Linked DNA regions of Homo sapiens: region 1 is linked to region 2. Evidence: fine-mapped QTL for protein levels in blood plasma. A gene starts in region 2. The other region holds a variant in brackets. All regions are shown on one strand. Distances are from middle to middle. Region 1 has its middle 14 kb from the start of GLRX5. Region 2 holds the start of GLRX5 (glutaredoxin 5).

Region 1 (5,372 bases), 15 kb before region 2:
GAGCATTTGCTTCCTGGTCCTCCCTGCATGGTGCCCTGCAAATAAATGGCTTCCTTTCTACTGCTGCGAAGCCTCAGTGTGGATATCTGGTCTTACTGTGCTGAGCAGGCAGACCCAAGTTGTGTAACAGTATGGGAGTAAGGAAACCTTTTCCAACGACCTGGTCTCAAAAAGTGAACCACCCATGCATCTTCTTTAGGAAGCTTTGGCAGGATGTGCTCCAGCAGAGCAAAGGAATAAAGCACAAAGACCAAGATGCGGGACACAGGGAACAGAAAACTCAACACAGGAAGAGCAAGGATGATGATAGACATCAGAGGGCAGCTGGAGGGTGGAGGATTCCAGGAGGGAGCTTGGCAGGGGGCAAGGGCTACTATGAGTTATCTGATGCTTCTGTTGAAAAACTTTATTGACAGGTATTTGGCAGATGCCTGTGCACTGTATAAAAATCCAATACAAAATAATCAAATAGAAAATAAACAACTAAAAAAAGGCAATTTTTAATAAATGGAGATAAAAGTTAAAAAAAGGAATACAGCATTTGCTTATTTATATATATTTATTTCACTAACATATATATTGTCAATAATAATGTAAAGACTGATGATTGCGCTAATTGTATAGGGAACAGTGAGAAGTAGGGTAGATTGATGATTATATGAGAGCATTCTTATCTATCAAAATGGCAAAGAGATTAGATAATATCTGATTTATTAGCAAAGAAATAGCAATATAAGCACATTAAAAAATATTGGCTAGGTGCAGTGGCTCACGCCTGTAATCCCAGCATTTTGGGGTCCACCCAGCAGGTGGGTGGATCTCTTGAGCCTAGGAGTTTGAGGCTAGCCTGGCAACACAGTGAGACCCCATCTCTTCTAAAAATACAAAAAATTAGCTGAGCGTAGTGGCACACACATGTATTCCCAGCTACTTGAGAGGCTGAGGTGGGAGAATCGCCTGAGCCTGGGAAGTCGAGGTTACAGTGAATCGTGATTGCACCACTGCACTCCAGCCTGGGCAACAGAGTGAGACCCTGTCTCAAAAAACAAAACAAAACAAAAAAAGAAAGGAAGAGAAAGGAAAATGAAATATGGAGGGAAACAGAAGAAACTGCTTAAGAAATGGAAATTTGTTTCCTATAGAGAGCAGGACCCATGGATCAAAAGGCAGGAGAGTGCTGTTTTTCATTATTACTGTAGTTTTTAAAGTATCATTTGACTAATTATATGCATGCATTGTTTTATTAAAAACGAGGTTAAAATTTCAAATGAATGGGATACTAAAAGCTTATACCCTATTTGACCATGTTTCTGATAACCGCAGGTAACAAAAGGACAACTGTGACCAAGGAAAAGGCTGGGGGGTGGCGGGCAGACAGAGGAAGGTGGGGGCAGCAGCAAGGGCTAGCAGAGGGACACTGCCAGGAAGTGAGAACTTGGGGCAACAGGTGGCCCTGAGTATGGGTAGAAATATCTGACCCCACCCAGGGCTGTGACCGAGGTCGGACGGAAGTGCAGGGAAAGACCAGCAGACCGCGGGAACTCGCTCGTAAAGCACTTTGTTTACTTCCTGCTGTCTGGAATTTCAGAGTGAAGTCCAGTGGGACCTCTGGCCTGGCCACCTGTCCGCACAACACACGGGGCCCAGGAGGCTTTCCCTGGCATCATTTGCAAGGAGGCATCATTTGCATTCACCTTCCATTTGTCTGACCTCAGAGGTGGGACCCTCTGCTTCCTTCACATACTTGATAGTGGATGGCCAGGGGCAACTTCCAAAATTCCTGGCCTCCCTGGCTCTTTCAACAGGCAACTGAAGCTCAAATTCAGTTCTTCTCAGGGCTGCAGGGCGAACACTCTGGACACCACAGCCAGAGCTGCACTAAGCGGCTGCACTCACTGAGCCGGCCCTCCGAAGGGTGCTACAATATGGATCTGATCACAGCTCAAATTCCACCAGGTAGTGACCTTGGACAAGTAACCTGACCCCCTCCCAGTCTCTGTGTCATCATCTGAAAGGAAGAGAGAATATCCCACATTTGCAGATCTTTGGTGAGAAACAAATTACGGATCTAAATGCTCAATAATTGTTTGACCCTTCCCCCTGTCTGCTTATACCAAGTAAGCATCCACCATAAAATCCAGGCAGCCAGGTGTATTAGTCTCCTTTTGCCGCTGTAACAAATGACAAGCTTAGTGGCTTAACACCAATTTTTAATCTTACAGGGCAGGAGGTCAGAAGTCTAAAATGACTTTCACTGGGCTAAAATCATGGCCTGTGTTCTTTCTGGAGACTCCAGGGGAGAATCCGTTTCCTTGGCTTTTCCAGCTCTAGAGACTGCCTGCGATCTTTGGCCTGTGGCCCCTTCCGCCCTCTTCAGAGTACATCACTCCAACCTCTGCTTCCCTCCTGCCCAGGACACCTGTGATTACATTAAGCCCACCCAGGTGATCCAAGACAATCTCTCTATCTCAAGATCCTGAACTTAAACACAGCTTAAACTTACCCCAGGTAACACAGTCACACATTCCAGGGATTAGGACATGGACATCCCACCACACTTTGTACGAAGTGCACCTGAACTGAAGTAACTTAGTCAGGTGTAACTGACACTGCCCCTTGCCCTCTGCTCTCCCAAGAATCATTTTAAGGAGACTTTACTAAGGAATCATGGAAAAAAGTTAAAAAACAACTTAAAGGCCAGGCGCGGTGGCTCATGCCTGTAATCCCAGGGCTTTGGGAGGCCCAGGCGGGTGGATCACGAGGTCAGGAGTTTGAGACCAGCCTAGCCAACATGGTGAAACCCCGTCTCTACTAAAAATACAAAAAATTAGCTGGGCATGGTGGCAGGTGCCTGTAATCCCAGCTACTCAGGAGGCTGAGGCAGGAGAATAGCTTGAACTCAGGAGGCAGAGGCTGCAGTGAGCCGAGACCGCGCCATTGCACTCCAGCCTGGGTAACAGAGAGAGACTCCATCTCAAAAACAAACAAAAAACAAAAGAATTTAAGAAGCCAGAATAACAGGAAGTGTGCTGCTAGTTTCCCAGGATTACAATTTACTTGTAAATGTACTGAAGAACTCTGAAGTTCTCCTTGAGATTTGAAATATTTTAATACCTATGTCAGACTCTGACAGCACCCTAACGCCC[C/T]CAAGATCAGGGCAAGGGGTGAGGGGTATCTGACACCCAGCTGAAGTCTCAGCCTCTGCCCAGCCTGGGTCTGGAGCCAGAAGAGGTCCCCATAGACTCGGGCTCAGCATGGCCTCCCCAGGAAGGTTGCTTCATCGGTGGTGGTGATGATCAAAGCTGATAGCTTGCTCAGGACTAGTGAAGACACATCAATAATCTGGAAATACTTTCCATATTTGCTCACCAAATTTCCTAGGAACCGGCGAACATTTCTACCTCCTTTTTCTGGCAAAACGAATCCCTGTGAAAATGGCTAATGAGGTACAGTAGAACCCAGTGTCACAATCCTTGCTACTGCTAAATTAGAATTAGCTCAAGGTTAAACTGCATTCTTTGAAGCATAACTCAACACAATAACTGTCTAACATATCGGTTCAGAAAAGACTCTCCACTTTGGTATGAAATAGAAGCAGTATTTTTAAAAATAAAACTCGGTGGCAGTAAGTCAAACTATAATCGTAGGAAAGATACTTTACAGGGAATTCTTTCTGGCTGAAGGCCCTGCCGTCCCCTAGGGCTGCTGGGCAGTCCACTGATAGATCATCACAAGGATTAGATCTGTCCTTTGCCTTCAACAATGAGTCTCTATGTTCCAGGGGCAACCAAACATGAACGATGTTGTGTTCATCAGCCTGTCCTTCTCTGCTCCCTTAAACCCTCCGAACGGTGGTGGATACCACAGCGCGGTACCAAGTCCAGGTGTAATCCAACATTAACTGTCAAGGTCAACTTACAGTGAGAGCTCATTATGAGCCATGGTCTCGACAGGGTGCTGTCATCTAAGCTTGTAACACGCCTGAGGTCGGTGGCATCTGCTATTTGCCCACTTAAGCAGGAAGGGAGGTTACTAAGTCGTCTGAGGTCAGTAGCACACCCAGCAAGTGCTGGGATGCAAACCCAGGGAGGGTGACTTGAGTCCCGGCTCTTAGCTACTGCGGTGTTGCGAGGCTGTAACCTGTAATAGCCTAACATTTCTTGTGACTAATCCAAAAGGAATGAAGAAAGGAAATTCTTCACTCTTTTCTAAATGTATTTTTTGGGGCACTCTGTATGCTGGCCAGAGGGGATCTGAATAAAGCCAAGTAACAGGCAGTTAGGTCCTGGAGTGATGAACAAAGAACAGGGCTGTAGAGTGGATTAAAGGGTCTGTTCCGTCTGGGGTCAGGGAAGGCTTTCTGGGATAGGAGAGACTTCACTGTGACACAACCGGGTGCCCCGGGAGGTTCACAAGGAGGAGAATAACATGGCTATTCTGACTGAATCCAGGATAGGGATCTTTGAGGTGAGGTGCACCTTCAGTGGCATCTCTGCCCTAAGGGAGACTCTGCCCTCAGCTCACCTGCACTGGGCTCCCAGGGCAACCGCCAAGAAAACAATGCTCCCCTCACGCAAAATGCCCACATAGCTTTCAGACCTAAAGTGATGCTACTCTCAGGAAATAAGACAGGAATGTGGCTTTACAAGAGTCCACCTGGTCACCCCATGCGTCTCTGTAAGCCCCTGGACCTTAAAATGGCTTTTCTCTTCACCATTCCTCTGCTCTGCTTCATAGTAGCTATTATATGGTTCTTAGGCACAATTTAAAGCTGCTTTTTAGATTTACTAAACAATTCTTAAGTGGAATGTTAAATTTTTAAAACAATCAGTGTTTTGTGTGGCCATCCCCTAATATATATCTTTTCCTGTCGGTGGCTCTCAGGAACCCACATGAAAGCTTTCTCACCTCACATTTAAATTTGTTTCTGCTGGGCGCAGTGGCTCATGCCTGTAATCTTAACACTTTGGGAGGCCAGAGTGGGAGGATCGCTTGAGCCAGGAGTTCAAGACCAGCTTGGGCAACACAGAGACCCTGTCTCTAAAAAATAAAAAAATTAGCCAGGTGTTGTGGTGCACATCTGAAGTCTCAGCTATTCAGGAGGCTGAGTGGGAAGGATTGCTTAAGCCCAGGAGGTCAAGGCTGCAGTGAGCCATAATCAGGCCACTGCACGCCAGCATGGGCAACAGAGCAAGACCCTTTTTCAATCAATCAATCAATCAATCAATCAATCAATCTGCACCAATGAAACCTTGCCGACACAAGTCATTCCTCTACCCTTAGCACAGTCCCTCCTGTCACAAACAAGGGACCTGATTTCTCAAAATATAATTTATGTCAAAATATCTAAGTAAACCTAACAAATGTAACAA
Region 2 (5,372 bases):
GGATAAAAGACAGAAAAATAAAATGTTATCAGTACATATTCGTATTTTTGCTCCTATTTTCCGTTTACTAGCTATATTCCAGCATATCTCATTTCCAGTTATATTAAACAAGAGAAAATAAATTCACAAACCAAAGACCCTCGAAACATGATACTAAGCGAGATAACAACACCACTTTTTTACTAGTGCCATATTGGCAATTTGCAGGGGACTCCCTGCAAGGTCTCTGTCAAAAGACTGCAAAATAGTTACTCCTCTTTTAAGCAGAGAAGCTGTCTTCGAAGGAAGACTGCAGGTCCCTTGCCTTGCACATGATAAAACTGAGCCCAGTAACTGGTGGCATACTAGTTGACAAGGAAGACAAAAGGGTCATGAGAATAACACATGGTAATATTACATATACGTGGTAATTTGAACCTGCCCTCTCGACTCCTCAACTCAACATGCTTTCTAGGTCCCACCCACCACCACTATCACCTACAGCAAATGGAGGATCAGTTATCCCCAAGAGTCTTTAAGGACTAGATAATCTGGGAAAAAATACATTTGAAAACCATCAAGTGCTAATACGAAGCCAGCTACCATTTACCGGGTGCTTTCTGTGCCAGGTAAAATAATACACACTTTCTATAATTTTTACTTTGGCTTCCTAACACAAACTTTGCCAAATTGTCTCATTATCCTCAAATGCAGGTGAGTGACTTAAGTTTTACACCTGATTAGCCACAGAAGAGGATGTCAACCCAAAGCTTTTCCAAACACCAGCCTGTCTCATCATTGTAAGCAATGACTATGATTAGTAATTTCGAATTTAGAGTAACAGAGAACCTGGCACCTATTTTTAGCACACAACTGGCACCTCTTTTTAGCTAGGGACATGCAGGGACTCAGTCACTGAAAGTCTCTAACTGGGATGCAGGTATCCTAAGTCACTCTCTAGAAGGAAAAGGTACAGCCTTCCCAGTTTTCCACCAACCCTGACCATCCTGGCCAAGGAGCAGGCCCTTGTGCCTGGCCTCTTCCTCCTCCCCTACTCAGATAAGACTGGCGAATGCACGTGGAGTACTTGGAAAAGATGCTTATTAGCTGCAGCCTTCCCTCTCCCGGCCTAATCCATCTGGTCCCTGGTGCCCTGGCCCCCTGGGCTCCAAGGCTGAGCCAGTGAGTTAGCCCAGGGCCCAGGAGCCAGGGCTGCTTCTTTTCCCCACAAACCTCTCCAAGCCCTGGCCCACATAAATTCAGCCCTGTGCTTGAGTATCTAAAGCCAAATGTCATGACTCTTCCCCGACAACATAGATCCCGACTAAGGTCAGCCGACAGCTGTCCCAACCCTTTGCTTGTAGCAACCACAGAGGATGATGCTTGACACCCTGAGCCGTGAGCCAAGCGAGATCAGCCTCCGACCTCACTAGCCTCAAGGGCAACCTCAGCCCTCTCCCCACCATCGACAGCCCTAGACCTTACCCACGAGTAGGCCAATGGCTTCCAACCTCCCCAAAGTGTCCGCGAAAGTACCTATCTCACAGTGGGTCCTTACTATGAGTTTCCTAACCGTGCAGAGCAGTCAGGCAGCGGGCCACCCTCCTCCGAGTCAGTCATTGACAAATCGCCCCGAAACGCCTATATTAGCTCGAAGTGAGGATAAGTGAACCTTTAGGACTTTACCTACTGCTCAAGTTGGCAACAGTACAGAGCCCCAGATCCTCAAGACCCAGTGAAATCAACTACACCCTCAGCCCAGACTCTACTCCAGGGCAGTACTCCTCGCCCTAACCCGGCTCGAACCTTCAGACAGACCCCGGCGGATGGAGCCCCGCTCCCCAGCCCGGCGCGGCGGAACCCCTCGGCCTCGTGCAGCGATGCTCCTGGGCCCGGGGCGGAGGGCGCCTGCCCGGCACACTGGCCTGACCTTGTCGGAGCTCCGGGTCGTCCAGCACGTTGTAGGCCGCGTAATCGCGGACGCCGTGCAGCCGCAGGATCTGCACCACGGCGTTGCTGAAGCCGCACTGGGGCTGCTCCGGCGTCCCCTTGAGGAAGACCACCACCTTGTCCTTCTTCACCAGCGCGTCCAACTGCTCCGCCGAGCCGCCGCCGCCCGCGCCCGAGCCCGCCGCCCGCACGCCCGGACCCCAAAGGCCACCGCCGCCCGCGCCGCGCCCCCAGCGGAGCAGAGCCGCCGCAGCTCGGCCGAGGGACCCGCTCATCTCCGCACGCAAGCCGGAGCCCACGACGGCCCGGGCCCACAGCTGGCCACCCAGAGCGCTCCCCGGCCCGCGGCAGTCCGACCCGCCCCCTGGAGGCCCTCATTGGGCCGGCTCTAAACTGCCCTCCGTGATTGGACAATACTGATCAGTAATTACTCGATTCCACCAATCATGTTGCTCGTCCCGCCCGGCAGGTAGGAGGTGGGCCTTATGCCGGAGCCTCATCCTACTGCCTTACTATTGGTCGTCGGCAACCGCTTTGTTAGTTAATTGGAGAGACTGGATGTCCATCAGGGTCACGCTTGCAGGGCAACGAGAGGCAAAACAAGAGGGAAGACGACTTTCCTCCTGTGAGCCAATGAGGCCAGCTGGACTACGCCGAGACAACTGGGAGAGGCGCGGGACTCGCCCGTTCCGCGGAACGCCGGGAAGGGGTCACCTCCTGATGAAGTTTCCGGTTCCGGTGTCAGCGGCGGTTGAATTGCCATGGCAATGCGGTGGGCGCGCGCTTGTCGTGTTGGTCTCTTGGGAGGTAGCGGGGCTAGGCCGGGCGGGTATCCGCCTCTCCCAGCTTAGGTGAGCGTCCCCGGGCGCCTCCGGAGCGCCGCGGCCGCATGCAGTTCGTCGTGGCGGGGAGCCGGAGCCTGACCGGGGTTCCAGCGCTCGGGCCGTAGCCTTGGCTCCTGGACTTTCCCTGGCTCCGCCGCCACGTGGGAGCTGAGGCTCTGGGGCTTCCGCCTCCGGCGCGCGATTATTTCTCTAGAACAGTTTTCATTTTTAAAATTTGTAAAGCGCTTTTGCCTGTGTGATTTCCTCTGGGTTTTTTTTTTTTTTCTTCCTTTTTGTAGAGACGGAATTGGCGGCGGGGGCGGGGGGTCGATGTCTCACTTTTTTGCCCAGGCTGGTCTCGAACTCCTGGCTTCAAGGGATCCTCCTGCCTCGGCCTCTTAAAGTGCTGGGATTACAGGCGTGAGCCACCGCCCCCGGCCGCCTCTGAGTTTCCAGCCTCGTTGGCCCTCCAGCCTTTTAACCTGTTGGGCCTAGGATCAGGAAAGGTTTGTTGAATGGGGAACTAAGAAGTGAATTCGTTCGTTCGACAAACGTTTCCTGAGCAGCCGCTGGGTGCTAGGCGCAGTGCCAGCGCGGAATGTCCAGGGAGACCTGGTGCCCAAAGCTTGGACCCATCGTGAGAAATGAGAAGCAGATACAAAGCAGTGTGGGAGTGCAGAGGAGACAAAGCAAGCCTCATCAGGCCCATTGCTTGCTCTGCTCTCCCTTGTACTTACCAGTGCTTGACAATATACAGTTATTTACTAGCTTGGTTATTGACTTCCTACCCAGCACTCAGTTTTATTCACTGCTGTATCCTCAGTGCCTAGGACGATGCTTGGAACGTGGTAAGTGCTCCTATTGGCGGGAAGAATAAATCCGGAAGAGCAGGACCAGTGGACTTGCTACATAATCTGTAGTCTTGGAGCCGCACAGGGTTGGTGGTACCCTCGAGCACACCAGACTTGCAGAAAAAGCATACTCCAGAGGAAGCTGAGGCATGCCTGCTCGAGAGCCAGCTGTTCCATGTGCAATTTTCCTCTGATAGTTTCTGGTCACTGTTGCCACGGTGATAATGACTGGGCTATGTCATTATCTATCCGCCAACAGTAAGAGAAGCTTTGCAGTCGAGATATTGTTTAGCAGATGGAGTGTTTTCTGTTGAACACTAAGTACTGCCACAAGTTACTTTTTTTTTTTTAAACTTTGAGTATTTTTTTACAATGTTGCTGGAGGTGATCTGTTTATGCTTTGAGAGTGTTCGAATTTAAAATCAGAAAATCATGTCAGTGAGTGAGTCTTTCAAATAATCCTTCGGCATGAAACCTGAGCCTAGTAAACTATGAAAGTAAACTCGGCACATTACCCGAAAGTCTCAATGTCATATTTTCACCCCCATCAATATTATTGATGATTGCTCATTTTCTAATGTGGGACCTGAAATTTACCAGGTGCTTAAAGAATCTTTTTGTTTTTCAGATTCATTGATTCCAGGTAAATCAGAGGAACAAGCAACATGAACAGAAATATGTAGAAAAAGCTATTATGCAGAAGCATAATTGTTGTTTCAGAAGTCCAGCATCTGGTGCACTTAACAATAGAGAATATATTAAACTCTTTCCAAAATAACCTGTTGTTCCTACCTGTGTTGTAAGTGTTTTGTTTGTTTTTAAGTAAATATTGGTGATTTGTTGCCAAAAACCTAAACTGTTTGTTGCTGTCAACTTAAATAACGAACAGAGAGAGGCTCTCTAAAAGAAAATGGCATTTATTCAGGAATAGAGCACTGCAATGAGAAAATGCATGCGATAGTTAACTGTGTGTATCCTGGGAGATAGAGGAAGACAAAGGTCTTTAAAGGAAAAATGAGGAGGGTTACATAATTGTTTTGAGATAATTATTTTTGACTACAAGGATCAGTAACAAAGGTGACACCAGTCCCAGGTTGGACAGGCAGGTGCTCGGCAGGCATTGCAGAAGTATTTTTTGTGTAAGATTGAGATGGCCTTTGTGCAGGATTGTGGTTTTGGAATCTTCTGTGATCGTTTTTGCTATCAGGCATTTATGCTTGCGAACTCTTTATGGCCTTCCCTGTGTCTATTTTGATTCCACCTTTCTCATTGCCCACTCTAAACTGTAATTCTGCTTTTATGTTGACTGAGATCAGGAGAAGAATTTGCAAACTTATATCCTGAGACAGAACAGTAATGAGGAGTATCGTGTTCCTTACCTAATGTATAATATTGGGCTCAGAAGCAGTTGTCTTTTTTATTTGTTGAACGTTGTATTAAGTTGAGAATGCAGCTGCCATTAAAGATTAAGAGTAATCCTTGAGAAGGAAGAGTACAAAGCCTGTGTTTTGCTAAATCATAGTGAAGTTGCCGTGTTTTTGTAGAATATGATAAGAACATACAGTGTGTGAAATGCTAAGGATATGGAAAAGCATGTTGGTGCTCTTTCAAGGAGCTATTTTGATAGCATGAGCAAGGGCAGGAAACAGATCATGTATCTGAACCAAAGAAATTGAAACAATACATCTAAATTTAAATTTTTAATAAAACAACCCAAAATATAGTGAAATACTTAGCACCAAACATCAGTGATCTTAAGAAGCAAAGA

The links. PIP is the posterior inclusion probability: the model's chance that the variant is causal. The UK Biobank Pharma Proteomics Project read protein levels with antibody pairs (Olink). The fine-mapping took linkage between variants from a reference panel, not from the people measured, so its PIPs are less certain.
Region 1: its variant is fine-mapped to the plasma level of the GLRX5 protein (UK Biobank, PIP above 0.99).

What each region holds. Positions count from the first base shown.
Region 1 is chr14:95,546,624-95,551,995 of GRCh38, reverse strand. No RefSeq gene overlaps it. Among named protein-coding and RNA genes, the nearest start is that of GLRX5, 14 kb to the right of the region's middle. RefSeq lists an enhancer at 3,338-4,213. The variant C/T (reference allele first, on the strand shown) is at 3,147.
Region 2 is chr14:95,531,922-95,537,293 of GRCh38, reverse strand. It overlaps GLRX5 (glutaredoxin 5), which reads right to left and starts at 2,244. Exons shown (of 2, transcript NM_016417.3): 1 at 1,910-2,244. The coding sequence starts at 2,204. It overlaps SNHG10 (small nucleolar RNA host gene 10), which reads left to right and starts at 2,422. Exons shown (of 1, transcript NR_003138.3): 1 at 2,422-4,382. It also overlaps SCARNA13. RefSeq lists silencers at 1,812-1,871, 2,082-2,371 and enhancers at 2,512-2,971, 2,235-3,024, 3,025-3,814.